Linked DNA regions of Homo sapiens: all the other regions are linked to region 1. Evidence: fine-mapped expression QTL. A gene starts in region 1. Each other region holds a variant in brackets. All regions are shown on one strand. Distances are between the middles of the regions. Region 1 holds the start of CEMIP (cell migration inducing hyaluronidase 1). Region 2 overlaps CEMIP (cell migration inducing hyaluronidase 1). Region 3 overlaps CEMIP (cell migration inducing hyaluronidase 1).

Evidence for each region. PIP is the estimated chance that this variant, and not a neighbour inherited with it, causes the effect.
Region 2: its variant is fine-mapped to the expression of CEMIP in cerebellar hemisphere (GTEx, PIP above 0.99).
Region 3: its variant is fine-mapped to the expression of CEMIP in lymphoblastoid cells (GTEx, PIP above 0.99).

Annotation. Positions count from the first base shown.
Region 1 is chr15:80,774,395-80,784,485 of GRCh38, reverse strand. CEMIP (cell migration inducing hyaluronidase 1) reads right to left here and starts at 5,116. Exons shown (of 30, transcript NM_001293298.2): 1 at 4,872-5,116. RefSeq lists an enhancer at 4,089-4,594 and a silencer at 5,215-5,494.
Region 2 is chr15:80,887,029-80,897,119 of GRCh38, reverse strand. CEMIP (cell migration inducing hyaluronidase 1) reads right to left here. Exons shown (of 30, transcript NM_001293298.2): 8 at 9,356-9,426; 9 at 8,324-8,419; 10 at 7,528-7,649; 11 at 1,998-2,130; 12 at 1,060-1,251. Among named protein-coding and RNA genes, the nearest start is that of MIR549A, 50 kb to the right of the region's middle. The variant C/T (reference allele first, on the strand shown) is at 4,940.
Region 3 is chr15:80,939,577-80,949,667 of GRCh38, reverse strand. It overlaps CEMIP (cell migration inducing hyaluronidase 1), which reads right to left. Exons shown (of 30, transcript NM_001293298.2): 26 at 7,615-7,819; 27 at 7,331-7,417; 28 at 6,566-6,723; 29 at 2,603-2,703; 30 at 1-871. The coding sequence ends at 744. It also overlaps a transcript of MESD not described here. Among named protein-coding and RNA genes, the nearest start is that of MESD, 45 kb to the left of the region's middle. The variant A/C (reference allele first, on the strand shown) is at 5,276.

The DNA of each region.
Region 1 (10,091 bases):
AAGGGCTGAGTGCATACCTTACAGCCATAAAGACTCTGGAGAACAGCATGAACTCCTCACCTCAGAGAGGGCCAAAGAGTGCAGCAGGCTCCTGGGGAAGCCTGTGGCCCTCCCTCCTCCGTGTGATGTCTAAAAACAGGTAAGACAGCAATCTGGCATGGACACCTTCCATGCCAGAACAACTATCTAGATATGCTTTCTCCGTAACAGAAAATGTCTAATGGTGCAGCTCTCCTACTGACAGGAGAGAAAGAAATTCACAGGGCTTTCAAAGACCTGGTCTTCAAAGGTTTTCAAAGTCTGGGCAAAGCACTTTAAACTGAAGTTGCATCTAAACCCCTGATATGACTGCCCTTCCAGAAGACTCAAAGATATCCCAGTGCAAGGAGCCAGGCTGTCCAGCTCCTTGCTCTGAGCAGGTGCCTGTGCAAGGAAGGCCTGACTGCTTGTGCTCCCCAGGGCTCACTCACCTGCAGGGGTGGGGAGGCAAGGATGGATTCAGATTCCTGGAGCCAAGCTGAGTCTAGGGACAGGCCCTAAAAAATAACAGGGGCAGAGAGGAGTAGCAGCTCCTCTCCCTCTGGGTGGCCATGTGTGTTTCCTAACACCAAGGGAACTAAGCAGACAGCAAATGTATATTTGATGACATTTCTCTGCAAGCAGCCTCCGTTCTGAAGAACCAAGCTTGAACAAAGCCTGGTGCCAGGGCACAGAGAAGAAAAAGAAGGACTAGGGGCCTGCCAGAGAGGATAAGATGGCCCCTGAAGAAAGTAGCTAAAGCAAAGAGGTGCAGATATTAATAAAAGTCACCATGACAGTCACCATCCTACTCAAATTAGCAAAGTTTCTACATGCCAGACTTTAGGGAAAGGAGGTTCAGGCCCAGCTGAATAGCTTGCAAAACAGTAGAAAGGAACCCAGCACTGAGAAGTCTCCCCCAGTACCCACTGCCACTTCCAGCCTCCTGCCAACCCAACCAGATACAAGAGAGTAAGAATGTGATCCTTTCCTATTCACTGTTCAAAGGAAACTGAAACTGCCTCCAGATAATGGTAAAAAACAAGCAGTGAGAGATAGCTGATGCTTTACCCTGATAAGATCAAACACCTGGGTATGTGCCATCATGTAGAAAGAGATGTGTAGTCCAGACTTTTCAAAGATATGCTATCTTGTGGATGCAACTCACAAATACAACTTTGTTCCCATTTAGGAACCCAACCTACATGTTTGCATTTCTCTTTTGAGCTATAACTGCAAATGCAAATTGCATTTAATCCATCAAATTGTGATGCTTTGCCGATACCACAGAAGGTACTAAAAAGAGGTCACTTAAGCAGCAGGCTTCAAAGGAGGCTGATGAGAATAATTGAATTCACCCCTTTCACTCTGCTGGCCTTCCCCACTGAATGCCACTCTTGCCATTTGCTCTGTCTGTCCTGAGGACTCAGATACTGTTGCAATAGGCAGAATGCCACAGGACTGATGAAGAGCTCGTTTCTACCACTTTACATGACAGTTCCTCCCCTCATTGGCCTTCACTCCAAGAGTGTCCTGTAGTTCAATAGTTTTCTTACCAGAAAGCCATGGGTATGCTGGAAACTGGAATCTGCATGGGAGTCCACAGAAGACAGCCAGGAATTCAAGGTCATCCAAGGCCCCATGTCCTCCTGCTCTGTTCATGTCACCAGCAGTCTCATAGAAAGATTCTGAGCATCTGTAGCATGTATTCTTCAGCTCCAATCCTTTTAGACGGAAGAAGCTAAGATTCCTTCTGAGCTATTAAGAGCAGAAGGAGGAGAAGAATAAAAATCTAAGAGCACCAGAATGTAAAACTGACAGGGATAAAAACACTCACATGCACGCACACACACACACTTTTGTGGGGGGAGAAAACTCTAACTGGAAGACTGGGTACTATACAATTCCATTCTCCAAACTTCTGTGGTGTGTCATGTATTAGTGATGTCTACCAGACAGAACCCTGAAATGCAGAGCTGGAAGGGACCCTCCAGTCCAGCTGGGATCAAATAAGTGCTCACTGCTCTGGGCAGAGCAAGTATCTTGGTCAGAATCTCACACCTAAGCAAGGCTCAAGCATGAAGTAAGGTGCTTCCTGCTTGGCAATGACCACTCAGTGAACCCCTGGGCAAAGTTCCACTCCATAAAGCTAACCCCTACTTCATCCTGGAGTGATCTAGAAACCAGGCCTTAGAGGCCACTCTCCATCAATACCCAAGAGTACTTCACTTGCAGAAAGACAACAAAGCCACTTAGAAGACCTTGCATTCTTGTGAGAGAACAATCAGGAAAAATTGATCATCTGAACCAGAGGGCTGTGAGAGTATTTTGAAAACAACTTACTTTTATCTTTCCTCCAAGTAGTGTAGGTAGGGGAAAACAGTTGACCGATTTTTATCACATAAAAGTTCTTCCATTTGTCTTTAAATAAGAATTTTTTTTTCATTGTGATCAACTCCAGCATTTTCATCAATTCCATCAACAAGTTCTCGGATGCAAAAATAAAGTGAAGATGGAGTCCCTATCAAACAGTTACTAGGTTAAGAGAGAGGGCAAAGGGATGGTGAACATAATTCAAAAGAAATGCACAACTGTCTTTAAAATATACCTGTAATTGCTACCATTTAAAACGATTTCTCTATGCTCAGCACTGGATTAAATGCTTTACATTGTACCAATTACTGTAATTCTCATAGCAACCCTGCAAGATGGCATTGCGTTATTCCCAGTTTACATATCAGCAAACAGGCACAAAACATTTGAGCAACTTTCCCAAAGTCACAGATGCTGTCTCAAAATTTTTTTTTATAAGAGGTGTTTACTTGTTTTTACTCTCCGTCGGCCTTTGTCAGTCACACACAAAAAAAGCAGACCTGCGTTTCTTGTAATTTTAAAATAAAGGAAGATACACACTTCAGTATGGGTGGAAATGACAAAAAGAGCCCCATCCAGTGTCGTTTCTTACCAGAGAAGGGAGATCTTTAATTTGGTGCACAGATTAAACCCTACAGGTTTTTCCACCCTGTTTCAAGTGACCAACTTGAAAAGTCATCTACTGGGCTAAAAAGGAGCCTTTGGAAATTGCTTTAAGAAAGTCATGGGCTTTGAACAAAACTATTAGGATCAGAAAACCGCATAGTTGCTTTTGCAAATGCATCCGATTGCCTTCTCTATAAATTTGCTCTATTTGATTTCTTCTCCATTCTATCATTAATCGTAAAACTAATATATCCTCCCAATCCCATATGTACTAAATAAATAATTTAATTTGATGGAACACATGAACTTGTGCCCTACACAGAAAACAGTTTGAGCTGGATCCCTAATTATGTCTGGCGTAATTGTATCTGGCATTATCTCACTGCCTGGGTCGGATTCTCAGGGGCCATACTTTCCTAACAGCTCTGAGGGGTCTCCGTGGTGTCATAGAAAAGCCAGAGAACCACAGAGTGCCCCCGGGAGGTCCTGCAGAACTGCCGGCTCAGCTAGGACCTGGTCACAAACCACAGACTCCTGAGGGCTGGGCTGCCTCCTGAGTGGTAATACCGAGGGCCCCAGCGGACTCTCAGTCCCTTTCCTCTTTCCCAGCGCCCCAACGCCTTGGGTCTGGGAAGAAAGCGCACGACTTCCCCGGAGACCCAGGGCCACAGACCCCGAGTGGAGGAAGTGGCTGGGAGCTGTCCATGGTGGCGTCGCGCCTGGGCACGCAGAGCCGCCGGCTCCCCGCCCTCGGGCGCGCCCTGGATCACTTTCCAGACCGCAGGGATGGAGAGACGCGCTCCCCGGCTCACCGTCCCTGGTATGGGGCTGCAGCCAGGCACTGGCTCACACATCAGAAGATTAGTTTTTAAAGGGAGCTCTCACCTGTGGGTAGCGTTGGCTGCTTGGAGAAGGACTCAGGACCTCAAACCCGGCAGCTGGCGGAACTCCTGGGACTGCCGTAGCGTCCGACCCTTGGGGAACAGCGGCTGTCGCAGAGAGTGTCTGCGGCTGAGGACCCAGGGCGCACAGCGCTCCTCTCTCATGAGCACACGCATCCCTTGGGGTCCATTCCAGAATGTCACTGGCCTTCGTTCCCAGAGCGGCGAGCTGGAGACCTGGCCAGCGTTCTGCCAGGACTCTCTGCCTTTCCTCACAACCTAACGCGACCTTTCTTGGAGCCGACGTCCTTTGCCAGGGACCACCAGACCTTCTTCCAGCGATGCCACGTTTGGAGTCTCAGTCTAAACATCAGCAGAGCCCCCCGGGTTCATCTAACATTGCAATTGCCTCAGCTCGGCCCCGCGCCAGCGCGTCGCTGGGTGCCTAGCGCTGTCCCGGAGGCACTGGGAGGCGAGGGAAACTGGGAGGAAGAGCGTGCTGAGGCAGGAGCAGCAGGGCGCAGACCTGTTGCTAGGCGCACGCCCGCTAGAGCTCGGCGTGAGCTGGCTCCCAGTCGGCAGGACACCGAGACCTGACCCTTGTGGTACTCCCTCCTCGGCGAGACACTCTCCCGGGCGCAAGCCCCCGGTGCCATTCAGAAGGGGGAAAATCTACGGAAAGCAGGAGTCTGCCCCCTCTGGATGCCCTCTGGGGACTCCAGCGCCCCCCGGCACCTGCAGCTTGTAAAGCATCACAAGATCTCAGAGAAATCCCACAGAGGACAGTGCCAAGAGCGTGTGCCCATCAACAGACGCATGGACAAACAGACAGATAGAGGTAGACTGCACAGCACAGGGTGGACAGACAAACAGAAACTGAGGCGGGTAACGTTTACCCTGTGCCGGGTGGAGGCGCGGGCCCCCACTTCTTACCTCTCTTCCGTGGCATGGGCCGTCAGCTCATCCCTGACGCCCCCAGCCAGGCCCTCTTACCTCTGGGTCTGTAGCCGAGACAGTGTCACGCCTCGCGGGCCAGGAGCGCAGCGGCCCCGGACGTCTGGTCGCTGACCGCCAGGCGCCGCGAGCTCCCGGGGCGTGGGCAAGCGGAGTGGTAGCTAGTCTGGGAAATCTGGGTTCAGACCCTGGCCGCGCTCAGCCCCGCTGGCTCCCCGCGCCGCTTGCGCTCGCCAGGCTCTGTCCGATAGCACCGCGCTGGGCTCTGCTTGAGCGCTAGCTCCCCGGCCCTCAGCCGAGAGGCCGCTTTTATAGCCACTTTTACTGACTCCTCCCCCGAGGAGCCCCTGACGCCCGCGCGGCACCGAAGCTCCCTCCCTCGCCCCCCGATGAAACTTCCCTCCACGCGCCCCCGCCTTGCCCAAGTGGGGCGGGGGCCCTGTGCCCGGGCCGGACCGGGGCGGGCTCTGGCGGCGGCTCTGGGAGACGCAGACCTGAGCCCGCGGAGCCCGGGTGCGCAGAGTCCCGCCCGCAGCAGCCAGGTGAGGGCGCTGGAGGCCAGGACTCGGTGGAGCGGCCGCGGCGGACCGCGGAGAGCAAGTCCCCGGGCCTCCAAGGAGCCAGGGTCGCCCGTGCCCCGCTCGCGCCCCGGGGCGCCCTCCGAGGCAAAGAGGCAGTGGAGGACAGGAGAAAAGGTCTGCGCCTGCCACAGAATCGCCGCGAGTCGGGGTCCCAGGCTAAGTCTCAGGATCTCTTTTTAACTCAGCAGCAAAAGAGTAGCCCGAGAAAGAGATTTTGGTATTGGCCTAGCAGTTAATCCGAGAGGAAGATGCTTGGGTGTTCACTGAAAGGCACCTTGGTTTGAAACTGGATTCAGACATGCCAGTTACAACTGTGTACAGGATCTTAACCCCTCCCAGTCTCAGTTTCCTCATCAGGAAAATGGGTTCTGTGATGCTTCCTCACTAGAATGGTGAGGCTTAAATGAGATCAGGAAAGTCCAAGTTCTAAGCACATAATAGGTGCTTGGTAAGTTAGAAACATTCCCTGTGGGTAGGAGGGCTCTGTGCCTCTTTAACTGGACAGGCCAAAGTTCTGAAGGGTCAAAGCAAGAAGGTGCGGCTGGTCTAGACATTCCCTCGCGGGAGGAAACAGTACCAGTAGGAAAAGTTCATCACAACACATCCCTAGGGCATATGGAGTCTCCTCTCAACTCTGCCGCTAACCTACTGTGTGACCAGGGCCAGCTACTTCCCCTGTCTGAGCCTCAGGGTGGTTTTTTTGCAGGGAGGTGAGGAGTGTTTGTTTTTCTTGTTTTGTTTTAATCTGTAAAATGAGGGCGTTGATACCTGCTCTCTGCCTCTTCCACCTTTCAGAGTGTGACTCAGCCCCCTTTCCTGGTTAGCAGAGGCCTCCTAGAATATACATTTCTTTCTTCCTTCCTGCCAGTGTTCTCTGAGAACCAGCTCCTCAGGCAAGGTCTCCATTCTGTGTAGTACACACTAGCTCCGGGACTCTAGGTCTGGACTTTAAGGCCAGGCTGTGGTCGGCAGAAGCTGTGGAAGTCTGTGATCACATCTGGGCTGAAGCAGAAGCCTTTGTCACCTGGTTAAACTGGGAAGTCCTGCAATCCACCTCTAGGCCTCTTCCAGAAAGCGGAACTTGATCCTTACTGGGGGTGGTGGTCAGGATTCTCAGCCCTTCTTTGATTTATTGGGAAGTAATGAACTGGATCCAATGGCAAGCCCTCCTCCCCAACCTTTTCTTTCCAGCCGAATAAAATGGAGCCCCCCCGACCCAGGGCCCCTCTCCCCAGTCCTCACCATGATTCCTGTTTATGTTTTTCTTCCTTAAGGAGCTCCCAGAAACCAGACCCACAAAGAGTTGTGTGTTAGGGGTTTGGGGGTGCTGGGCATTTGGCCCAAATGGAGAAAGGTCGACCTTGAATCAGCCTGGCTTGGCACGACATGCAGGATTTTCCATCAACAGACAGTAGATTTGAGGCCTGAGTGGAGCCAGGTAGCTCTCTGGTGAGGGGCTGGCTCCACAGCCATCTGGGAGATGAAGTGGTAAAGGCAGGGTCCTGTCTAGGGATGGGCCCTGAGAAGTGCTTGGCTATGTTTTCTCAAAGCACTGAAATGCCCAGCACATTCCTCTGGTATCCAGTTTTCTTTATCACAGACCAATGCCCAGGGGAAAAGAGCAGTGCTGATGAATTACAAACAGGCTCCGAATGTCTAAAACCAGATTCTCCAGCCAGTTCTCCATTCAGCACTGCCATTCAGCACTCAGTGATGAACGGGGCGTGCCGCGTAATTCTTTATGGATAAATATAGCAACATGACACTGGTGGATTTACTGCCCACACTTTCGCAATCCATTGTCTTGCTCTTATAAATGCAGAGACAGGAAAGAGCTGGTCAAGAAAGGCTGTGTTAGTTTTCTGATTCTTGCCGAAATCTCCCAGCAGAGAGTCTCCAGAGAGAAGGGAAACGCCCATCAATGGTGTGACCTGCCACCCAGAAAGCCTGCCCTTCCTCCATTCTTTGCATTTGCCTCCAACCCACCTTCCTCAGGTGGGATGCAGCCCCCTCAGCTACATCCTTGTGCAGTAGATTGGCCTGCCTGCTCACTGTTGCCTCAAGCTGCCCAAGTCTGGCATCCTCAGTCTGCTGACAGGATGCCACATCTGTTCCCTAAAACAAGGGCCTCCACACTCCACCTGCTGATCAGCAAAGACAGCACCTGACCCTACAGCAGCCTGCCTTATTACAGTTTAAAAGGTTGGCCACACCTGTGGCTCCATACGCCAAGCCTCCAGACCCAGTTGTCCAGGAAAACCTGGAGTAGACGGGTGGAGGACAAGGAGAAAAGGGAAGCAGGATGTAGTTAGGGTAGTGTGTGAGTGGGCTGTGGGCCTCAAGGTTTCCAGCAGACCCACAAAAAATTAAAACTGAATTGGGCATCTCCACCCTTGGAGAAGCAGCTCACGAATAATGAGCATACTTAAGTCCCACCAACAGGGGTCGCCCTTAGACACTGGGCCTGAAGCTGGCATCAGAAAAGGGAAATTCCCAGGCCTGGATCCGGAGGCCAGATTTCCAGCTCTCAGAGCTGTTGATTCCTGTCTTGTTGGACACAGAAGAGGCTGCCCAGCTGAAGAGAGACATGTCCTCAGCTTTTCTGGTGAGTGAAGGCCTGTGCTGGAACTTATGACAGCAAATCCCAGCTCTGAAAGTGGATTTCTATATCTTCCTCTTCAAACTCACCGTCACTCTAGAGAAAGAACTCTTCTTTCCTGTGTTTTATTTATGTCTAAAACATAGGTAAACGGTGTATGTATGATGTCTTCTTCTTATTTATTTCCTTTTGTTCTAATTGCAAAAAATCACACATGTTCCCTGTAAAAAAATCAACCAACCAACCAACCTTGAAAAACTTAAACAATGAACAAAGAGAAAAGAAATTACCTAACATCAAACATAATGTGTATACATTACAAAAGCTTGAAAAATACAGAAAAACACAAAGGAAAGAAAAAAAAATCACTTCCACTCAAAAATTATTTCTGTTAATTTCAGTATATAGCCAAGCATTTTTCCATGTATAAGTTACATATATAGTTTCACAAATAGATAAATGTATGTAAGTGTTCCATAAATCTTCAATAGCTAGCTCAAAATTATTCTCTTCCATCAGATTGCATGTTCTGAGAGGGCAAGGGCTGTGTCTCTCAAGTTTACCCATCTACCCTGTAGTAGCTCCTATAGTGGCCAACATGAAGTCCACGTGTAGTCCACCGTCAATGAATGAATACACGAATGAGCATTTCCTATAAAGATAACATACATGCGATGGAAAAGGAGACCCAAGTAGTTTACAAACATTTGAAAAGATGCTCAACTTAACACATAAATGAAGAAATACAAATTAATACTAGGCCGAAATACCTGTCAGGCTGGCAAAAATCCAAAAGTTTGACCCTACCTCTGCTGCGGAGGAGGCCAGTAAGGGTGGAGAATCAACCTTTGCATACATCACTGATGAAAACTTACGTTGGTACAACTTGGGAGGGCAGTTTGACAAGATTTATGAAAATATACATAATGTTTGACTCAGCAATTCCAGGAATTTATCTTACAGCTATAATGTGTGAAACAAATAGCACCAGGTTATACACTGTAGCCCTATTTTTAATAGTAAAACAACAACAACAACAACAAACTAGCCTAAGTGCCCAGTAGTAGGGCTAATTAAATAGTGTTGCATCTATATGATGGAGTATTATACAGCTGTTTAAAAGCTGAATAGAATTCTTTTTTTTGAGACGGAGTCTCACTCTGTCGCTGTGGCTGGAGTGTGGTGGTGCCAACTCAGCTCACTGCAACCTCCGCCTCCTGGGTTGAAGTGATTCTCCTGCCTCAGCCTCTGGAGTAGCTGGAACTGTAGTCGTGCGCCACCACACCCAGCTAATTTTTGTATTTTTAGTAGAGATGGGGTTTCACCGTGTTGGCCAGGCTGGTCTCGAACTCCTGACCTCAAGTGATCTGTCCACCTTGGCCTCCCAAAGTGCTGGGATTACAGGCGTGAGCCACTGTGCCTGGCCAGGAATAGGGTAAATTTTATATAGTAAAATAAAAAACTAAAGCATAGAGCAATGTATATATGATACATTTGCACACTACCACTTGTGCAAAAGGGAAGGGGCGGAAAAATACTCTGTATTTGCAATTATTTATGGATGCATAGGAAATTATCTAGAATGACACACAAGAAACAAATAATATGGTTTCCTGTTTGGCAATTGATAGTTCTGGTGAGGGCTGGGAAGATGGAAGAGGGGTGGGATGTCAACTTTTCCTTATGTGCTTTTTTGTAATTTTTTTCTCTTTGAACTAAGTGAATTATTACCTAGTCAAAAATTTAAAACCGGGTGTGGTGGCCAGAGCCTGTAGCCCCAGCTACTCAGGAAGCTGTGGCAGAAAAATCATTCAAGGTTGTGGTGTACTGTGATCAGGGCTGTAAATAGCCACTGCACTCCAGCCTGAGCAACACAGACCCTGTCTGTCTCTAAAAAAAAAAGGAAAACATAAATAATTTTTAAATGACAAAATTATATATAATAATAAGCCTGTTTTTTCAACTAATAATATATCAAACACATTTCCCTGCATTTTAAATCTCTTTCTAAAAATTTTTTAAAACTTTTATTCATTTTTTAGCATTTTTAATAAATTTGTTTATTTCTTTGTTTTTAAA
Region 2 (10,091 bases), 110 kb before region 1:
GGTAATATATCCCAATTTTCCTTTGCGGAACAGCCATTTATCCATTTAATGCAGTCTTAGAAGAACTTTCAATGACTGTTCCTGCCTTTCCTAGCCAAAGGGTGAGCACACAAGCCACCAGCCCAAGCAGATGCTCTCTCCCTGGAAGGTGACTTTTGAGCACTATGTCCCATGGCCTAAGCATGGTTCTTAAAGATGATGCCTTAAGGATACAGTCCATTAGTTCCTGCTACCCAGATCCCAGAAGCTACCCTGTTCCCTGTCCTTTTGGAGGTTAGTTATTCAGCTTATCCTTTAGTTCTCCAAGTTGAATAGCCTCTCAATAAATTCCTGTTTTGCTTAAGATAGTCAAGTTGGATTCTGTTGCTAACAGCCAAAGAACTCTAATTGATACATAACTCCCCCTACTAAGAATAATTGACCTGGATTATATTTGAAGTCTCTTTTTACCTTCAACAATCTGTGATTCCAGTAACCTCCAATAACATAAATTACAGGACATCTAAATCAAGATTTAGGAGAAGAAAAAGAAAAACCCCAAACTCACAGATACAAGAGATTAAAAATTTTGTAGTAGATTGAATAACTGTCTAACAAATATTCACTTCCTCCCCCTCAAACTTGGTGACAGACATATGCTTCCCTAGCCTATTTGTGTTGTGCTTTACCATGTGACTTACTTTAGCCAATGGAATGTGTGAGAATGTGCCATCTTTGAGCCTAGGCCTTAAGAGTTCTGTGTTTCTGCTCACCACTAGGAGTTTGCAATCTCCCCCGTGAGAAGAATATGTTTTGGGAAGAATGGGAGTCATATGGAAGTGACTTGAACCCAACTCTCAGCCTGGAGTCAGGCTCAGTCTAGAGAAGCTGATCCCTAGACAACCTGCAGATACATGAGTAAGAAATAAAGACCTGTCATGAAGTTTTAAGATTTTTTTTGTTATGCAGCATTATTACAGCCATAGCTGACTGATACAGATTTGTTGTAACTTCAGTTTACTTTAAGCCTAACAATTTTCAGATTCATCCAGTCTAGGAAGGGATTAGTAAAAGTCCTACCTGCCACTTTGACCTGGTTGGGGGCGCAGGATCTGCAGGGAAGCACCTGGAACTCTTCTGCCTGGTACATGGAGTAATCAGTACTGGCAATGACCAGGGTATCTCCAGGTTTCCATGACTGTACATTATCCTCCAAGTTCAGAATGGTGCTGTTCACATTGGTGTCAATGGTGACTGTGAGTTTGGGCCTCACTGTAACCCAAAACAGGAAAGACTGAGATAGAGCCCTTTGCTCTTGGCAAACTTTTGGCTACCTCTTTTTTCCCTTCCCCTCCCTAAATAACTAAATGCCAGGTTTGCCTATCCAAAACCCAGATCACTGGCTTGCTCCATCCCACTCTTGGTAAAGGTTTTTGAAGTCAACAAAAACCCTACCAGAAAAGAGCCATTCATTAGCTCTGGGCGGGGGAATTTTCCACTAACTTCTTAGCTGGAGTTAAATGTGGCTGCCTCACCCCACCCACTTTGCTCAAGATGTAAAACAAATATAGTTCCTCTCAACTATTATTTTCGGTAGCCATAAACTTCTCCCCCTAAACTTTCATTCCTAATGACTGCCTTCTGGAGATGGCCAAGTGCCTCCGAGAACAACCCGACCATTTCCAATCTCTTCTAACAAGCACCTTAGGTACTGGATTTAAAATAATAGCACCCAAAGAGGCAAAGAACTGCACATCTCTGCAGGGGAGGGCAGCTCTGTCCATTTGTACCTTGACTGCCTTGGACCAGGCCCTTCCCCTTCCTGAAAGGCTTATGGGCAGGGTGGGGTTCTGCTGTCTCCTGCCAACTCCAAGGATCCTCCCACTGCTCCCGTGTCACAAAAGTGCTCTCCTTTGGGAGCACTGTCTCACTGAGAGGTCTGGAAGTTGCCTGCATAGCTGCCAGTTCAAGGAACCGAGCCATAGTTGCATCTGTGTCCCCGACAAGGGGCTGCTTACCAGGCTTCCCACAGAGGAACCGTACACGGTAGCTCCGGCAGGCTCTGCCCCGGTCGTAGCAAGCAAACCTATAATCCTGGCCTTTTTTGTAGACAACCTCGGTGCTGAGGTTAACTCCATCCATTGTAGTGGCCTGGGAATGACACAGAAATTACAGAGCAAAGTCGTTTTTTTTTTATAGAGAAGGAAGGTGCTGATTAATGTTCTAAACATATACTCAGAAGTCTAAAATTGTCCCTGCTGCAACACTATTTACAACGGCCCGAGATGATTATCCCAATGATTGCCCCCATCAGTTTTGTTATGAGAAAGACAGCCTAAAGTCTTGGAATAGATAAATGCCTGGCCTGAGGTCCTACAGTACTCAGTATCGAAACCAGTGATCTACTGCTTATGGCTGGGTGAACATTTTACGGAGCATTTACAATAAGTAGCCACTCTTCTAGGATCTGGGCTGGCCACTTTTTACAATTTGCACCACCACTACCAGCACCATGAACAGCGGCCAACAGTCCAAACATGGTTCTGCATCCCATGGGGAGGAGTCTTTAAAAAATACTCATGCCCAGTCCCCATCCTCGGAGCCTCAGATTTGATTGTGTCTGGGGTGCAGCATGGACATCTGGACTTTGAAAAGTTGTCCAGGTGATTCTAATGGGCAAGAAAGTTTGAGAACCACTAAAGCTAGATGTTTACCTATATTATCTCATTTCATCTTCATAGCAAAACTATGAGGCTGCTGTTAGTTTTACAGATAAGGAAACTCATCCTCAGAGAGGTTCAGTTACTTACCCAGGATCACAAAGCCAGTAGGTGGCAGAGCTAAAACTTGAACCCAGACTTATGTAACTACATCACAACACTTCTAAGCCCCATCCACTCTTGCCCTAAGGTGGAAGCCGCCTAATGTCTTTTGTTCAAATGTCTGCCTCCTCCCACCGCATGGTGGGCTCTGGGTGGGCAAGGAGCTGGTTTTTGCCCCCTTGTCCCCAGCATTCAGCCCAGGGCCTGGCACAGAGTGAGGTCTCAGTGGATGAGGGCTGGCTGGTGAGCAGCTACAAGGCCAGGTGGAGAATTTAGGGAGCAGGCCTCCAGGGAGGGCATGATCCCTGCCAGCTGGGGCCCATCCCAGAGCCAGGGTGTGTCTGCATCCTGACCATGACTATCATTCAAAGACATGCAATTTAGAGCAAGGGCTGCAGCTGCTGTCATCTTTGGCATAGAGACCAAAGGGACCAGACTGGGGTAATAAGGAAGGAAAGTATAGCCAGTCAAAAAAAAAAAAAAAGAGGAGACTTTTTAGGAAACATTGTTTTAAACCCAGCAGCTCCGTTATCTTTGGCTTGGAAGAAGAGCCATGTGGATGTGAGTTCAGCCACAATTAAAACTCAGTCATTTCCTGCAAAAACACACTCACACCCCCTATCTCAGGTGGTCTCTGCAGCAGCCAGAGAGGCAGGGGTTGCAAACTTGCTTTTAGACGGAGGTCAACGCTGATGCTCAGAGGGGTTCAGATGTAAGCTCAAGGTCAGTTAAGGTAAGCCCAGCTCCTCGGGCCTCCTGAAGTTTTCCCCTGAGGGTAGCATGTTCTTCAATTGGAGACCCCGTAAGATTGAGAACTGAGCCTGAAAACATTATCGAAGGGGGCTGGAGATTTTTTCCAGGTATAACATCCAACAATAATTCCAGGAGAACATCTACTCAATTCTGCTGTTTTTTCTTTTTTTCCTTTTTTCTAACCTGAAAAATGACCTCAGTTTTGGATAAGAAGAGTAAAAGGAATCCATCATCATTCAGAGAAAGAGATCTTTAAGTAGACTTGAGTTTATTATTATTCTTGGTAATAATAAGTATTAACAAAATAATTATCAATATAATAACTAATAGTAAATTTATTTTATTTTATTTCATTTCATTTCATTTCATTTATTTATTTATTTTGAGACAGAGCCTCACTCTCTTGCCCAGGCTGGAGTACAATGGCGCCACCTCAGCTCACTGCAACCTCCACCTGTTCAAGCGATTCTTCTGCCTCAGCCTCCCGAGTAGCTGGGATTACAGGTGCCCGCCACCACACCCAGCTAATTTTTGTATTTTTAGTAGAGATAGGGTTTCATCAGCTTGGCCAGGCTGGTCTCGAACTCCTAACTTCAATTGATCCACCCACTTTGGCCTCCCAAAGTGCTGGGATTACCGGCGTGGGCCACCAGTCCAGCCAATAAATTAATTTTAAATAATAAAAAATGTATGGGCCACTTTTCAGTCTGCACACTTCATTGCACTGAATCCACAAAACATGCCCATGAGGAAATAATTATTATCCCTATTTTTGCTGTGAGGAAACGAGACACTAAGTAACAAGACTGTGAGTGAGGTACCCAGGGCACAAAATTTAAGGCAGCACCCACTCTTAGGGTCATGCAAGTGCAGAGTTGGCGCTGGAGGGAGCGGGCTGCCTTAAATTTTGCACCGTGGGCACCTCACTTGCTGATATGCCAAAGCTCACAAGTGGTAGAGCTGTGATCTCTCTGGCTTCAGAATATGTTTTTGTTACCATCAGGCCGACCTCTAGCCACTGCACCAGCTGCTGTGGGGAACACACAGACTGCCTGATGTCCCCAAGGAAATCTCAGTCCAGTAGATCCCACTGGCCTTGAAGGGTGGCTGGGTTTTAAGAGAGAAGGTGGGAGGCAAGAGGATTTTTCAGCCAAGGAGAGCTGAACGAAGGGCAAGACATAGAAACAGTGTGTTTTTGTTATTATAATTTTTTTCAGAATCACAAAATATCAGATCTTGGAAAAGCTTTTCTTAAGGTCAACTGTGCAGTCTTGCTGCTTCCTCTTTCTTCCCAACCTGCCTCCTCCAATCTTGCCTAGGTTGCAAATGTCCTTGACACTCCCTGGCCCAGAGGATCTGGCTATGTCAGTGCATGGCAGGTATGC[C/T]GGGACCCACTGTGTATGACACGGAGTTGGGCACTGGGGGCAGGCACAAGCAGGAAGAGGAGCACGTAAAAGCTCAGGGCCCGGGGAGGTGAGAGGCACCAGGTGACCAGAGAAAAACTGCATTTTTGCAATAGTGGCAAAAATGAGCATGTGGGGAGTTGTGTTTCATTTTAGTCTCTCCCTGGGTTAATTAACTAGGACATTTAACTTTTGGCTGATGCATTTGTCACCTGCTAAAAATGGGGAAATCCTGCTTCTCTCACCTCTTGTGAGCATAGGAAAGACTGGCTTTGTTTTTCTGGCCTTGGAAACATCCAGGAGCATATTCTACATCACCATTTTTACCTTTGATGAGCATGAAGAGATGCTCTAGCTAAGTCTGGAGATGACCATTGATTAAAGATTGGTGGCGAGAATTAGGAGTAAGCCTGATCTCTCCAGCGTGGCAACACCTTCTCTTCGGTAGAGATGGAGGTTTGAATTCACCCTTGGAGGCACATGACTCTTATCTTTTAGATGACCATCTCAATAGACCTTGGTTTTGCCAAGAAAAAGCCAAAGGTCTTATTATGGAATTGGGAGTTCTGAATGCTTTCATTGTGGGAAGACTTCCCTAAGCTTCTGAGTAAGGGGACCACACTGCTGTTGAATCTTCTGTTCTCTGAACCTCAAATAATGGAGAACTTGAATTTGGGGAATGTATTGCCAAGGGAACTCTTTTTGTTAGAAGAAAACTAGGTCTTGCAATATGGCAACAGACTAACAGTTATAGAGTGTAGGGTTGGGTCCCTATGAAGGTCTTGGCTTATGGAGCTCTCAGCCTGGGTTTAATTGTGTTTTGGGACACTCTAGGAAGGGCCTGTGTCTGTGCTGGGAGCAAAGTAAATGCAAGAGTGGGGAATGTCTAAGGAATGCTGTTTTCCTGGCACTGAGAGGTGGTCTTCCAATCAACAGTGTCTGGAGCCAGAAAACTGGCAGAGCAAACACCAGGAAAGATTTGTAGACCATGTAAGCATTCCTTGAGCATTTCCAGAAGTATTTGGAGAGGGGAGGTTGGTAAAGAGCTAGACTTCCTGTGGTCAAGTGAACTGGAGGGATAAGATTATGGCTATTTCAGAATTAAAGCTGGAACATTCAAGGTTATGAGAGAAAATTAAAATTAAATCTGGAAAGAATGTGCTGTGGGGGATCAGTGCTTTTTGATTCTGTTGGACCCAAGGAGAATCTGCAACTTGAAACTTAATCTGGGTAAATCCTTCTCAATAACACTGAAGCCATGTGAAGGGAAGAGTCTCAGCCAAATAATGAGAAAGTTTTCCTCAGACTTTGCTAAGTGCAGAACAGAGGCTCCTCCCTTGGATAAGTGGTCCTTCTTACAAGGCAAGACAGAGGGTAGAAGTTCTGCCCAGGATGGTGTGGCGGGGTGAAAGCACAGACAGATGGCCTGGGACTCGAGCTGACCTGGGACCCGAGCTTTGATATTCTAGGAAAAAGTGTTGTACAAATGGGGTAGCTATTTTTATTGGCTGAAGGAGGATAAAATGGGTGGAGATGGCCTTTCTCAAATGCCTGGTTTTTTTTTGTTTTTTTTTTTGAGTCAGAGTCTTGCTCGGTCACCCAGGCTGGAGTACAGTGGTGCGATCTCAGCTCACCACAACCTCCACCTCCTGTTTACGCAATTCTCCTGCCTCAGACCCTGAGTAGCTGGGACTACAGGCACCCGCCACCACACCAAGCTAATTTTTTTTTTTTTTTTGTATTTTTAGTCGAGAGGGGGTTTCACCATACTGGCCAGGCTGGTCTCTAACTCCTGACCTCAAGTGATCTGCCCACCTTGGCCTCCCAAAGTGCTGGGATTACAGGCATGATCCACTGAGCCCAGCTCAAATGACTTCTAATTCTCTATCAAGCATTTAAGCAGCCTCAAATCTTGTCTTGGAATGAGACTGGGCATAAGGAGATAAATCTCATTTACTTTGCCTATTTCTCCTGTCTCTCCTGTTGTTCCCAAAGCCTAGTATCCCACTGGCTCAGCTGGTGAGGCCTGTATATTTACTCAACACTTTCTTGATGGAGCCAACTGAGAACATCAAGGTCCCCTTCAGATGGAATTAACTCTAAGTGAAGATTTTGAGCAAACACTGTCCATTCTATGAATGCTGGCTTTGATTTAGCTCAATTGAGAACAAGGCCATGCGTGTGTTCTCCATCTGGGCTGGCCTGGCCTGCACCCCAAATCCTAGCTGCATCCTGTGCACTCAAGGTCCCTAAGGAAATTGACGGGGAAGTGAGGCTGGGGAGTCCAAACCCATCCCTGTGGTGGGGGCACACTCAGTCATGGCTGAAGAAGCAAGTTAAAGAGAAGGAACTCAGAAGCTGGACCCAGGAGAGAATCTGAGCCCTGGCTTTTGGGCAGATAGTAAGCCTCTGCTTCAGTCTCTAAAGTGGGAATGGTACTCTTTGGCTGACCTACCTCACAGGAGGGCAACGAGAATCACAGCACCCAAGTGACAAGAATGTCTGTGATCTATAGAGTCTTCTTCAAAACAACACATTTCTATTTTCTATTTTTGCTGTGAGTTTGGTACCTGTATATCAATGGGACGATTGCATATTTTTCCTGGGTGAGCTTTCCAGAGGTCTGAAATTTTCTCCCCACCTTTAGTCTGAGATACTTTATCATGATCGAACCACTCCGTCCACTCCACGTCTAGGCAGAAAGCAAACAGCACAGTCAGACAGGAGGTTGTCTGTGAGGGCAAGTCACACTCAGTGTTGTCTCCAAGCATCCTCAGCACCATGGGAACTGAATATTATCTGTCCATGGTTGCACCAGGCTGGGGCATGGATGGCTCTAATCAATCTGCCTATGCTCCCATGTTTTAATTAAAAAATGAGTTTCTCTTAATGAGTTTCTTACTTTTATAAAAGCAATTTATATTCTTTGTTATTGCAAAAGCAAATTAAAGAGAAAAGAAAGAAAATCCATCTGTAAACCCGTTATCCAAGGACTGCAACTAGGATTGCTGCTTTCTGCAATCCCTGCATGTGGGCTATTTGGAGGGCAGGTTCTATTCCTATCTGCATTTCCTGTTCAGTGCCATTGCCTGCCACATCAAAGATATTCCGTGAACTAAGCTGAATGCCGCAGACCCTGACTGAGGTGAAATTGAAATCTTAGCCAGAGGAGAACATCCTTCTGGGCTATGGGCTAAAGTGGCTTGTCTAATTAAAGACAACTTTTGGTTGCACATTTTTAGTTGATTCTGCAAAAATTAAAGTGGTCCTACTGGTATAAGAGATAAATCCTAGTTCTGCAAAGACAGTGATTTCTGGTCTTCTATCCCACTGTTAGGTGTCACCAAATTGTCTGAAACTCCTCACCTTGAACCCACTCACTGGACAAAGAAACATTGAAATATTCGCCATGCTCTGTCTGGAACAATTTGAATACCCGGGCAGCAGCAGAGCCTCGATGTCCTGTCAGAGAAACGAGACCCTTTAGGAGCTGGACAGACCCCCAAATTCAAAAAGTTGTGACTCCAAGGCAAGGAAACCCCCCTACGCACATGGGCATTGACTCATTTCTTTAAAAATATTTTTTAAGTAAATAAAAGAAAATTAGGACATTCATTCACTTGGGAAGAGATGATCATCCATTCTTTTGTTTCAGTTTTGAAAGTTTAGTTCCAGCCTCCCAACAAATTCAGATTGCAGAGCTCTAGCATGTCTCACGGTCTGAATTCCTCCTTGGCATTAGAACTGCAGCGCTTCCCGCAGCCTTTGCTGGGCAAAGGAGGCTACTACTGTGTCCTGAAGGCCCATCTAAAGTGTCGCTTTAGCTCTTTTTTTTTAAATTTTTTTGAGACGGGGTCTCTGTTGCTCAGGCTGGAGTGCAGTGGTGCAATCTCCTCCCAAGTAGCTGGGACTACAGGTGCCCACCACCATGCCTGGCTAATTCTTTTTTTTTTTGTAATTTTAGTAGAGACACGGTTTTACCATATTGGCCAGGGTGGTTTCGAACTCCTGACCTCAAGTGATCCACCCGCCTCGGCCTCCCAAAATGCTGGGATTACAAGCGTGAGCCACCACACCCAGCCTCGTTTTAGCTCTTAAAATACCACCCCTGCTGGCTCTATCTCAGTTCTTATCTTTTCTATGCCAATTCTAGGTTTTTGATTAAGTCAGTGAAGATTTCCATGAAAAGGGAAATATTACTGCAAGTGATGGGCCTTTGGCCAGCATTGGCCTTTGCCACTTCCATGTAAGGTGGCCAGTTAAGCGGCTGCTCACTCATCTAGACATTGGGAGCTGGGAAGCCATGCTCTGAGAAAAGTGAGATGTTCAGAAAAGCCCTGCACCTCTTGATCAGAGAGACACTGGAGGGAATCAGGCCTCCAGCCAGCTATGTATTACCATGATATTCAATATGGTCTTCCACTGAAGATGATGGATTTCCTTTCACAGTTAGAAAACTCCAAGGGTGTCTGAAAAAAAGAAAAACATAACAAAAAGTAAAGTTCTGCACGAGTCTGTACCTGCACAGAGTGTGGGGGGATGGGGCAGAGTTGAAGCAGCGTCAGGTGAAGGAGGGTCCCTCCCTGCTGTTTGGGGGAAATTCATTCACTTGCTGGGCTTCTCTTCTCCAGAAGAAGCACCTTTCTTTGCAAGCACTCCTCTGGGCTTTCTCGCTCCCTGGCCTGCCTGATGTTTGCTCCCTGTGAGCCTCTTCAGCTCCATTCTGGCAGAAGATGGGAGCATGAATCACAAATAAACAAACAAGCCAACAGACCTACTATACCACCCGCCAGGCTCAATTATGTCCTGAAGCAAATGCTTGGATACCTTCAGGAAAACATGTTCCAAGAGAGAAAGGTTATTTCTCTCATGCTCAGCTCCCCTAGAGTTGAGCTCGAGGAAAATACCAGAGGCTAACATGACTGACTGCCCTAGCCATCTGCCTTGGGCCGTGGAAAGGAGAGAAATCTCTCTTCTTCTTAATGGGGAGGGAAGCAAAAAAAGGCTTAAGGTTTTGAAAAATTGTACATCCATCATTCCTCCATGAAAGCACGTGCTGCTTTAGGGCAGCAAGGTTTTCTTACCCCATTTTGTTTTAGGCATTTTGCGTAATGCCTAATGCAGTAATGAAGTT
Region 3 (10,091 bases), 170 kb before region 1:
CTCTCCATCCCGTGTGCGCTGGGGCACCCAGCATCATGGATATCAGTGGATATCCATGAACTGTTGGGTTCCAGGTACCATGTGAAATGCAGCAGATTTCTGGAATCTCAGAACTAAAAGGGCCTTTGAGAGTCATCTAGTCCAAGTCCAAACCTGCCACTCAAAGTCTCCTGAAAGGTGGACACGGCCAGAGGCAGGGCTTGCCTCTTCCCCAAGGATAGCCAGTTCTACCCCAGCTCCTAATCCTGTGAGGTTGGCTCTTGCTTACAGGAGTAAAGATTTCCTTAAGGCCAAGGCTCTTTCTCCTACATTTACCACCCTCACTTGTCTGCTGAAGACCATGGGGATCTGTGAATGACCAGCCCTCCAGACTACCTCCTAGCTGGGTCAGGGCTCCTGCCAAAGTGGATCTTTGCTGTCAGCACAACCCAGGTCTCCTGATATGGTCCCCAAACCCCCACTGAAGAGGCACAGATAGGAGAGAAGCACCCAAGAGGCTGCAGGAAAGTGAATGTTTCCAGCATTGGCCAGCACCGCCCCAGGGGCTCCAGGTAGACACTTGAGTAGGGGCAGGTGGCAGCACCAGGGTCTCTGATAGCCTTCCCTTGGCCCATCAGGGCTGAAACACGGCCTTCCCAGGCAGCTGCTGGCAGGGGCTGGGGGACCCAGCCATCCCCCACTGGTCTGCTGCCAAGAGTCACCGTCATAGTCTACCACGAGGTGGCACCGGGCGGCAGCTGTCCTCACAACTTCTTCTTCTTCACCACAGGGATGGGCACAACTTGGAAGATTTTGGCTTTGTGATCCTCAGTGTCCAGTGTCACCCAGATGGGCCGGAAGCTGCCTTTGAAGCCAACGAATGCCATTTGCTCTGAAAAGCAATGATGAGTCTCCTGAGCAAAAGCCCTATGAGAGGACGGCTGCCCCACCCCGTTCCATGGCTCCCCATCGCCAGCCCCCCACGCCCACCAGGTACCGCCTAGCCACACTGCACTGTGGCCCCTTGGGAAGAGCTCTGTGCTCAGCTACTGATGGTGCCTGACATGTGTTTGTATGGGGCAGGCAGGGTCTCACCTGAGCCTCACTGCCACCTAGGCAGGGTGATGGCTTTGTTGTAGACAGGGGAGCCATGCACAGCAGGAAATGGGGCAAACTGTAAGGGAGGAGACCTCCTAGGAACCTGCCTACCTTTGAGCTGCCCCTAGGACAACCAGCAAGTCCCTGCCCCTCTCTGAAGCCCAGTGTTCCCATCCATCAAATGATGGCATTGATCTACAAGATCTCCTTCCCCACTCTATCACTCTGTGGCTCTAGAAAGAGTTCTGAGAGGTGAAGAAATTTGACCAAGAGTGTGGAGTAAATGGTGCACCCCAGATTAGAACTCTAAACCCCTGAAACCCACACAGCACTCTCCATCTTGCAGTTCACAGCTTGAGCATCCGAGGGGCATGGGAATCCACGTCTATACTCAGCCCATCTTGGCAGGCAACATGCATTTATCACCACCGGGAAAGTGCCATTCAACTTAGGTCACCTTACATACATCAGCTTTTGGCAACCGGGATCTTAATTTAAAAGACAGAGGCTCCAAAATGATTTCAGGACTGGGCTGGAAAGGATACTTCTCTTTTCCTTATGTCCTCCTTTGGCTGGTTTGAAGGGTTTGCATTGCTTCTGATTTTTCTCATTGCCCCATATGATGGGTTTCTGATTTTGATGTTTTCCATAGTGAGGATGGTGTATAACTAAGAAGCCCAGCTTTGAGTTAGGAAGATTAGGATCCAAGTCCTAACCTTAAGCAAGTGGCTTGGCTGTTAAATTCTTGGTGTCCTCATCTTAAATGGAAATAATAGTACCTGCTGCACAGGTTATTAATGAGTAAGTGAGATAATTATAACATGTTGTGCAAAGTGCAAGGCTGAACATTGAATAGCAACCACAATGATCATTATCATTATTGCCCGTGGAGCTTCTCTGCCGCCCATACAGCCTCTCTGAGGACTCTCCCTGCACCTAGTTTTTGTGATGATAATGGGTGTCATGCTGACATGTCCCTCCTGGATGGCTTCTTCCAGCACAGCCAGCAAGCCTGTGCTAGGCTTCACCACCGAAGCTGCCTGGCCTTGGACAAGCCATGTAGGTTCTCTGGGCTTTAGTTTTCTGGAACAAATAAGAGTTTTGCAAGCTGCAAAGGACTGTACAAACGCTAGGCATCAGCTAGAATGTTGAAGAAGATGCAGGACCCCTGGCCAGTCTGAATAGCAGGAATTGGGTAGGAGGGTGAGACTAAGCCACTTTTCTTATGATACTTTTGTTGAATAAAGGGCCACTTTCCAAGCAAATGAGTCAACAAATATAGCAATTTTCTTTCAGTGGCTGGTGGCAAGTTATAATAAATTTGCTGCAGTGCAGGGGTGGTAAACAGGTGGCATCTTGCCCATCCATTCCAGTAGACCACTAGTTGTGTGGGGGATTCTTAGGTTGTACCCACGTTTAGTACAAAGCATGTTCTCAACTCAGCAAAAGATGACAGCACCCTCCATGCCAGGCATTTGCCTTCTCTGGTTTTGGGGTCAGTTTAAACCCCAGTTCAAACCCTTACCTTTCAACTTGAGACCCCTGTCTGCCCCAAGCTTTTCCAGCACTCTGGTCCATGGGCCTCTGGAGACGTATCTTCCCTTTGATGCCATAAGCACTATGGAACTGTGTGAGAAGAAACCAATTAGACCAGAGGGAGAGAGCAAACTGGAGAAAGTGGGCATGGGGAGGGATGTTGGTTTGTGCATGGTGGGACTGGAGTTAGCAGTGCCCAGAGGCCTGTCCAGGGATTCGGGAAAGGGCAGCCTCTCCTGTGTTCTGAGCTGACGGGCTCTTTCCATGTGGTGACGAACATCCTGAGCTCCCTCCCACACATCTGGCCACAGTTGGTGCCCACAGCCTTCTCCAAGCCTGGACTTGGCTCACCGCGTTTACATGTCTCTCTCCAAACAGAGGAGAGGATGTAAGCAGAGCGTACCATGCCAGGGCTCGGCACACAGTAGGACTTCGATATGTATCTCTTCCCTTGAATGTTCTCAACCCTGGTTAGGTAAGACCAGATAGAAATGTGGTGATGGAGGAAGGAAGGAGAAAGGGAAGAGAAAGAGAGGAGGTGCGGGAAGGCGGAGGGGAGCATCTGTCAAATCATAAAACCATCCAGGAGCTCCTGAAGGTTCTAGATCCTGAAGGTTCTAGAGACCAGCTCCATTTGGCATCCCCTGGGATTTCATTAGAACCACAGAATTCCTCCATTGCAGACTTCCTGAATCAGAATCTGCATTTTTACAAGATCTGCAGGTGATCATGTATACATTAAAGCTCGAGAAGCCCCATGCTAGAAGATTTCTCTTGGAGCGCATCTTTCTTTTGCTGTCTTCTTTTGATGGACACAGGCTTAGTGTAGTCCAGAGCCAGCCTTCTCTGAGCTGCAGGAAGAGCATGGCCAGGTTTGAAGTCTTTCTGGGAGAACACCATGTCGTTACCATGATGCTCGGGTTGTACCAAGAGCTCAGATTGACCTCTTACGTTCACGTCACCTCTCTCTGGTTAGGCAACACAGGGCTATTGCCTCTATTTTGCAAATGGGGAGATTGAAGCAAATAGTTACCAAGTATCTCAGAGGACCTACCAAAGGGAAATGTGCTTGAAAGACACAGAGGTTTGGAGCAATGTGTGCACCCAGCCTGAAGGTCCCAAATTGCAAAAGTTCGACTTGGGAATAAGGAGTGTCTATCCCCTGCCTCGGGGTGTATTCAGTCCAAAGTGCTGGGAAAATAGCCTTCACAGTGGCAGACTCAGCACACTGGGCCAGATAGGAGGAAGTGAGCACCTCCCTTGGGAATAGAAATGGGGCAGAAGCTCAATGGGGCGTCCAGTTTGTATCTCAAAGGAACTCTGTAACCACAGACCACAGTCCAGACATGGAAAAACTGTATAGGATTCTGGAACCTGTTGTTACCCCCATTTGTGTCCCACTGGGAACAGCGGGAAAGATCTTAAGATGCGAAGGGCTTGTGTGAAATAAGGATAGATGGGAAGGGAGCTGGGGCTGCCTCAGGCCCTTGAGGAAGGCTGGAGAGGGAGGCCCAAAGGGTTGGTAGGGTGAGGCCCCTTAAGGAGACAGGTCTCATTGCTAACACATCCTCCACTCTAGATTCAGGATCTGTTCTCAGGAGGATATTTCTGCATTGTTTCATTTCAGAACAAAAGCTAATGGTCCTTTGTTGGAGCTCAGCCTTCCTACTTGGGGGACTCAAATGTAGGTCTTGCCCTCCTGATGGGGATCTAAGTTAGCTCACAGGAGCGGGACAGAGAGATGGGCTTCTTGTGTCCCCACCCCTTCCCACTGATGCCCAGAAGCCTGCCTACCTATGTTGGGAACACTTCTTTGCCTGGTGTGCCATCCTCATGGCCTATAAGCCCATGCCCCAGCCAGCACAGTCTCCCACAGAGTGGCAGTGCAGAGGCAGCTCCCAGAAGCCATGCTAGATGTTTCTGGTGTGAGCAGCTGCCCTCTTCTCTCCCCAGGACCCTGGGGCCAGTAGTGGCCTGCTGGATGGGGTAGGAAGCATGGGCCAGGCTAGGCAGGGCCCGCAGCCACAGTAGAACAGGATCTACCTTGCCTCATTCCCTGCTGCTTTCCAGGAGGTTAGAGAGGGGTCTAGTGGTACCAATGCCTGCCTGGGTGCCCAGCGCCAGCCCAGGGAGTGGCCCATTCCAGTAAGGGCTTCCCCCAGAGAGGTGCTGCTGCTCGGGCTGGTGGGAGCCTTGCACATGGTTCCAAACAGAGTAGCACTGCAGTCTAGTTTCTTATTCCAAGCTTCTGCATCATCTTTCATTTCAAAAGAAAATTCTCTGCCCAAAACGTCATGATCTCTAGAGGATAACTATTTTTCCCAATTTGGTCAACCTTGTCCTCTGTCTGAATCTGCATATGAAAAATAGAATGCCGAAGAAGCATCTGATGGGGGAATGAGGGAGGGAGTAAATGTGGTTAAGCAAAATCCCATTATCCAAAATCTCGCCAGGTGCCCAGTTCACGTCGTGCCCCTCATGGAGTCAGCATCTGGGAAGTACATTTGCTTTCATTTAATAACTATTAATGTTTACTAAGCACCTACTATGTAGCAGGTACCACATGAAGCGCTTAGACTTTCCACCAGGTTGTGGCTCCTGAGTGAACTGTACACTCACTTAACTAGCCATGTTCTGTGCTAGAAATGCAAAGGGAAGTTAG[A/C]CATGGCCCCAACATTGAGAAGGCCACACTCTTGATGGGGCAACAGATGTGTCCACCAGACCTATTGTGAGTAGTGCTTTAGCAGAGGTAGAACTTTTATTTTTTATTTTTTTGAGACGGAGTCTTGCTGTGTCACCCAGGCTGGAGTGCAGCTGCGCAATCTCGGCTCACTGCAACGTCCGCCTCCTGGGTTCAAGCGATTCTCCTGCCTCAGCCTCCTGAGTAGCTGGGACTACAGGTGTGCACCACCACACCCAGCTAATTTTTTTGTACTTTTAGTAGAGATGGGGTTTCACCATATTGGCCAGGCTGATGTCAAACTCCTGACCTCATGATCCACCCACCTCGGCCTCCCAAAGTGCTGAAATTACAGGTGTGAGCCAATGCGCCCTGCCAAGGTAGAACTTTTGGGTTGGATCGGAAAAGACCTCACCGAGGAGGCGATGTGGGGAGACTTGTAAGGTACTGGGGAATTACCAAAGTTTGCTAAGGAGAGGGGACACAGGTTTTCCCTACATTTAAGAAGTTTAAACCAGCGGCCAATATGGAAGATGGGTTGGAGTTGGGGCAACTGGAAGAGGGAGGCCCGTTAGGAGACTGTGCCAACAGTGTTGGTGATGAACAGCAAAGGCCGGGGCAGAGTGGCAGAAGAGAGGACGCTGTGGAGGGAACCAGCAGGCGAGCAGTACTGCAGGCAGAATTGATAGGGTGTGATGATAGCATGTGGAGGAAAGAAAGAGGAGACAAACAGAATGCCCAGATTCTGGCCTGGCTATCAGGATGAATTGTGATGATTTCATCAAAACTGAAGAAGTAGGATGAGTGGCTGGTTTGGGAGGTTAAACATTTTAAAAGGCTGAGAATTCAGTTCCATACAAGATGTCCAGGTGGCGTTGTCCAAGTAGCAGTTGGACTGGAATGTCTGGTGCTTAGGAAGGAGATCCGGGCTGGAGATAGTAGCCACCAGCACTTGGATCGTATTGAAGGTGTGGGAGGGGATGAGATCATGCTGGGAGTGTAGTGAAGAGGGCCAGGGCAACCTTCCCATGTGCAGCGGGGCTGTCCCGCCTGCCTCCGCCTGACCTACATTCACAGCAGCCCAGCTCCAACACCAGAGTCCACAGGCAAGGACGCTCTTGTCCAACACCCATGATTTGTGGGCAGGCTGTGGAGACTGCCTGAGCTTTTCCAGACTGATCTGTGATGAGGGCCTTTGTGAGAGGGAGGGGGCCCTTGCCCAGGGGTCTGCTGTGCCAGCAGCCAATTCCAGAAGCAGAGGTACAGACTCACTTGTCAGGGATGGTCGCCACATAGTTGAAAAGCTGCCATGGTATGCCTTGCAGAATGGAGTTCCTGAAGCTCGTGTGGCTCACCACGCGCCCTTGGTTCCCGTCAATCACCACCACCTGGATGCCATCCTCCGAACTGGGGTACTTCTTCCCATCCACCTACAGAGCCAGAGCAATCCAGGTGTGAGGCAGGGTGCCAAGGCCCCATGGTTCTCCTGCCCAGGTGGTTCCCAAGCAGACCCTGAAGGCAGAAGTTGCCTATGCATCTATTTGAAGCGTAAACTCCATTATCCACTTAACTCCTCGTAGCCCTCAGTAGTGGGTCAAATAGTGGCCCTGCAAAAGTTATGTCCACCCGGAACCTGTGAAAGTGGGCTTATGTGAAAATAGAATCTTTGCAGACGGAATTAAGTTAAAAGATTTTTTGATTAAACCTTCTGGATTTTTAGGGTGGGCCCTAAATTCAAAGATAGGTGCCTTTGCAAAAGAAAGGCAGGAGGAGAGGTGAGACGCAGACACTCAGGAGAAAAGCCCACATAAAGACAGAGATTAATGTGTCTGCAAGCTGAGGAATGCTCAGGAGTGCTGGCAGCCACCAGGAGCGAGAAGAGGCATGGAACAGGTTCCCCGCCCCAAGCCCCCTGGAGGAAACCACCCCTGCCAACACCTTGCTCCCAGTTTGCAGTAATTTGTGCCAGCAGCCGCAGGACACAGTATCACCTCTCAATGAGCAAACCCGAATCCTCCAGGGGCCAGAGGCACTTACTTCAATGTAAGCGAAGTCGTTCCAGAGGTGGAAGAAGTGCTGCTTGGAACTCTCCATCTTCACCTCCAAGAAATGGTCCTTTGTTTTCTGGAAAACACATAGAACCCAATGTAATTGTTAGGTTTGGGTAGTCATTCCCCTCCTCTTCCCGTATCCCCAGTCACAGGAAATGGTTTATGGAGCTGAGTGAGGGACCTAATTGGGTCTGGGCCCGACTGGACGGCAAAGGGCTCTAGGCCCGACTGGACGGCAAAGGGGTCTAGGCTTTGCTCTCAGCCACTCACCAGCTGAGAACCAAAGAGCTTCTTGGGCATCGGCACGTCTACGACAGCCCTCTCGGTGAACTTGGGGTAAGCTGTGGCTGTGCAGTCACTGACGCCTGCGTTCTTTGGAATCAGAGCTTTAATCTTTATCCTCTCACAGCCTTTCATGGAGCAGAAAGCAAACTTCTCTCTCTCGTTCTGAGCTTTCAGCTTCAGGAACAACAGCCTGCACACAAGGAGCATTGCTGGGCATTTGCTTGGACACTCAAACCTCCCTCTTCTCCTCCCACCCACCGAGACATTTACTCTGAGCTGGTCATAGCAGGTAGACCCAGCGGCCTTATAGAATGGAACCATGTCTACCACCGAGTTGCATGTAGTTGGAGAAATAAGGAACAAATGCATTGAAGAAAAAGCTAATGAGAATGGCAATTCTATTCTGAGCACGTTCTATGTGCCACGCCGTGCACACATCGTAAATCGACATATCTCATTTAATCCTCAAACAATCCTGTCCAGTAGGTACTATTATCATCCTGAATTCCTGGATGGGAAAATGGTGGCTCAGAGAAGTGAAGTGACTCGCCCAGGACCACACAGCTGGGAAGTGACAAAGCCAGCATTTTCCATCCCAGCATTGTGCCCGGTGAGGAGATGCTCTGTCTTCCTATCTCTAGTTTTCTCCAAACCATAATTTATTCCAAAAATTATTTATAATTTATTTAAAATAATAATTATTATTGTAAAGGAAGCTGACCCAGTGTTACAGGGAGTCAGATTATGAGGAAAACACAGTACTAACTTGGGATTCATTATTGTTCTTTTAGTGCAGAAAAGCGCTTTCAGGCTGAGTCCTGCATCTGAAACATGGGAAGATAGGATATGGGGTATCTACCACCCATCTTGCTCTGGGGACCAACCCTTCACTGAGTCCAGTCAGACTAGGGAGCTGGGTTTGCACCACAATGCCCTCGCCCCCAAACCCCTACCACACAGCTGCTCAGACCAGGGGCACACATTGGACTCACAGAGGGGCCATGGATTGGCCAACCAGTAACCAAGATTCTCGCTCTTATGGGACCCAGCAGGTCTTGTCCACCACCGGGTGGTGCTTGAACTAAAAGACCACATGGAGTTGGGGCTGACAACCTTGTTGTGCCCCATGCCTGCTAAGGAATCGCGAGAGGAAGGCAGTTTGCAGCAAGTAGCTGAAACAAGAGGCCATGCGTGTGTGCGTATGTGTGTGAACATGGGGAGATGGAGAGACACAAGGGGTAGGCAGGCTACCTCCTCCCTGCTGTCTTGGTTGCTGTCAGCACCTGAGCCCATGAGGCCCAGCTGGGTTTTTATTTCTTGAAGACCCCTTGGTCTTCTCTCTGTAGCACCTCCACTTAATCTGAGCTTCCTTGAGAGGCTTTATGTTTCAAGCCATCCACATCAAGTGATCTCAGAGTAAAGTAGAAACTGACTGTTACAGAGGCCTCGTGCTCAGGGCTGAGAGCAGAGCAGCCATATCTGCATTCCATGCCCTGCGTGGTGGGGAAGCTGGGGAGGCAGGTGAGCACCCGCTTTGAGCAGCTTAGGAGGAAGGCAGTTCAGTGCTGCCCATGGTCACGTCTCCCTGGAGGCTCCCAACATGCTCCAAACCACTCCTGGGACCAAGCACAGAAATGGGATTGGTCCTGAGGCTTCTGCACAAAACTTAACAGTATTCAGGTTTCCTTGTTGCCATTATATATCAGATTATCTAAACTGGGAGTGACCTAAAAGACCATCCAGCCCATGGTAGGTAGCAGCTGCCTTCCCTAATCCTGACCTACAACTTGGATGTGTGCAAGCTGGCTGAACTGCAAAGCCCTGGAAGGCATGAAAGGAGCACGGGCCTGGGCATCTGCCAGCCCAGTGCTCAAATCCTGGCTATGACCAAGTAATGTTGCAGAGCAGCGCTACTGATGGCTGTGCACCTTAAATAATGTACTTGTTTATAATTTAGTAAGAATCATTATAAGAATTCACTGAGGTGGTATTAAGCAAACTTAGCTATCCAGAACACAGCTACAATCACTTAACAGTTTTTTTAACCTGGAAAAAATGAGAGATGATTCAGAGCTTATATATTTCACACTTTGAAATCCCCTCCCTTTTAGCTGACTTATTTTAATTTTACCCCTAATTATAGCAAGCTGGTTGTTAAGTATCCTAGCCCATAGTAGATTATTAGAAGGTAGCTGCTAAAGGCAGGTGCTCTGAGTATAAGAAACAACAAACGTATAAGGCAGAAAGATTTTTAAAAGCCCAAGAGTTTGCAGCCCTTCTCCATAGGAAACAGACCCCCTATAACCCAACTCCTGGTCCCTAAGGCGTTGCTGAATTGAAACACAACACAATGATCAACAGGCATAGGGCTAAGCTATGCTACCAACCAAAAAATGTGCTTAAGGTGACAAGCAGACCAGCCTTAGATTTTTAAGACTTTGATCAAAGAGGTTCAACTTACT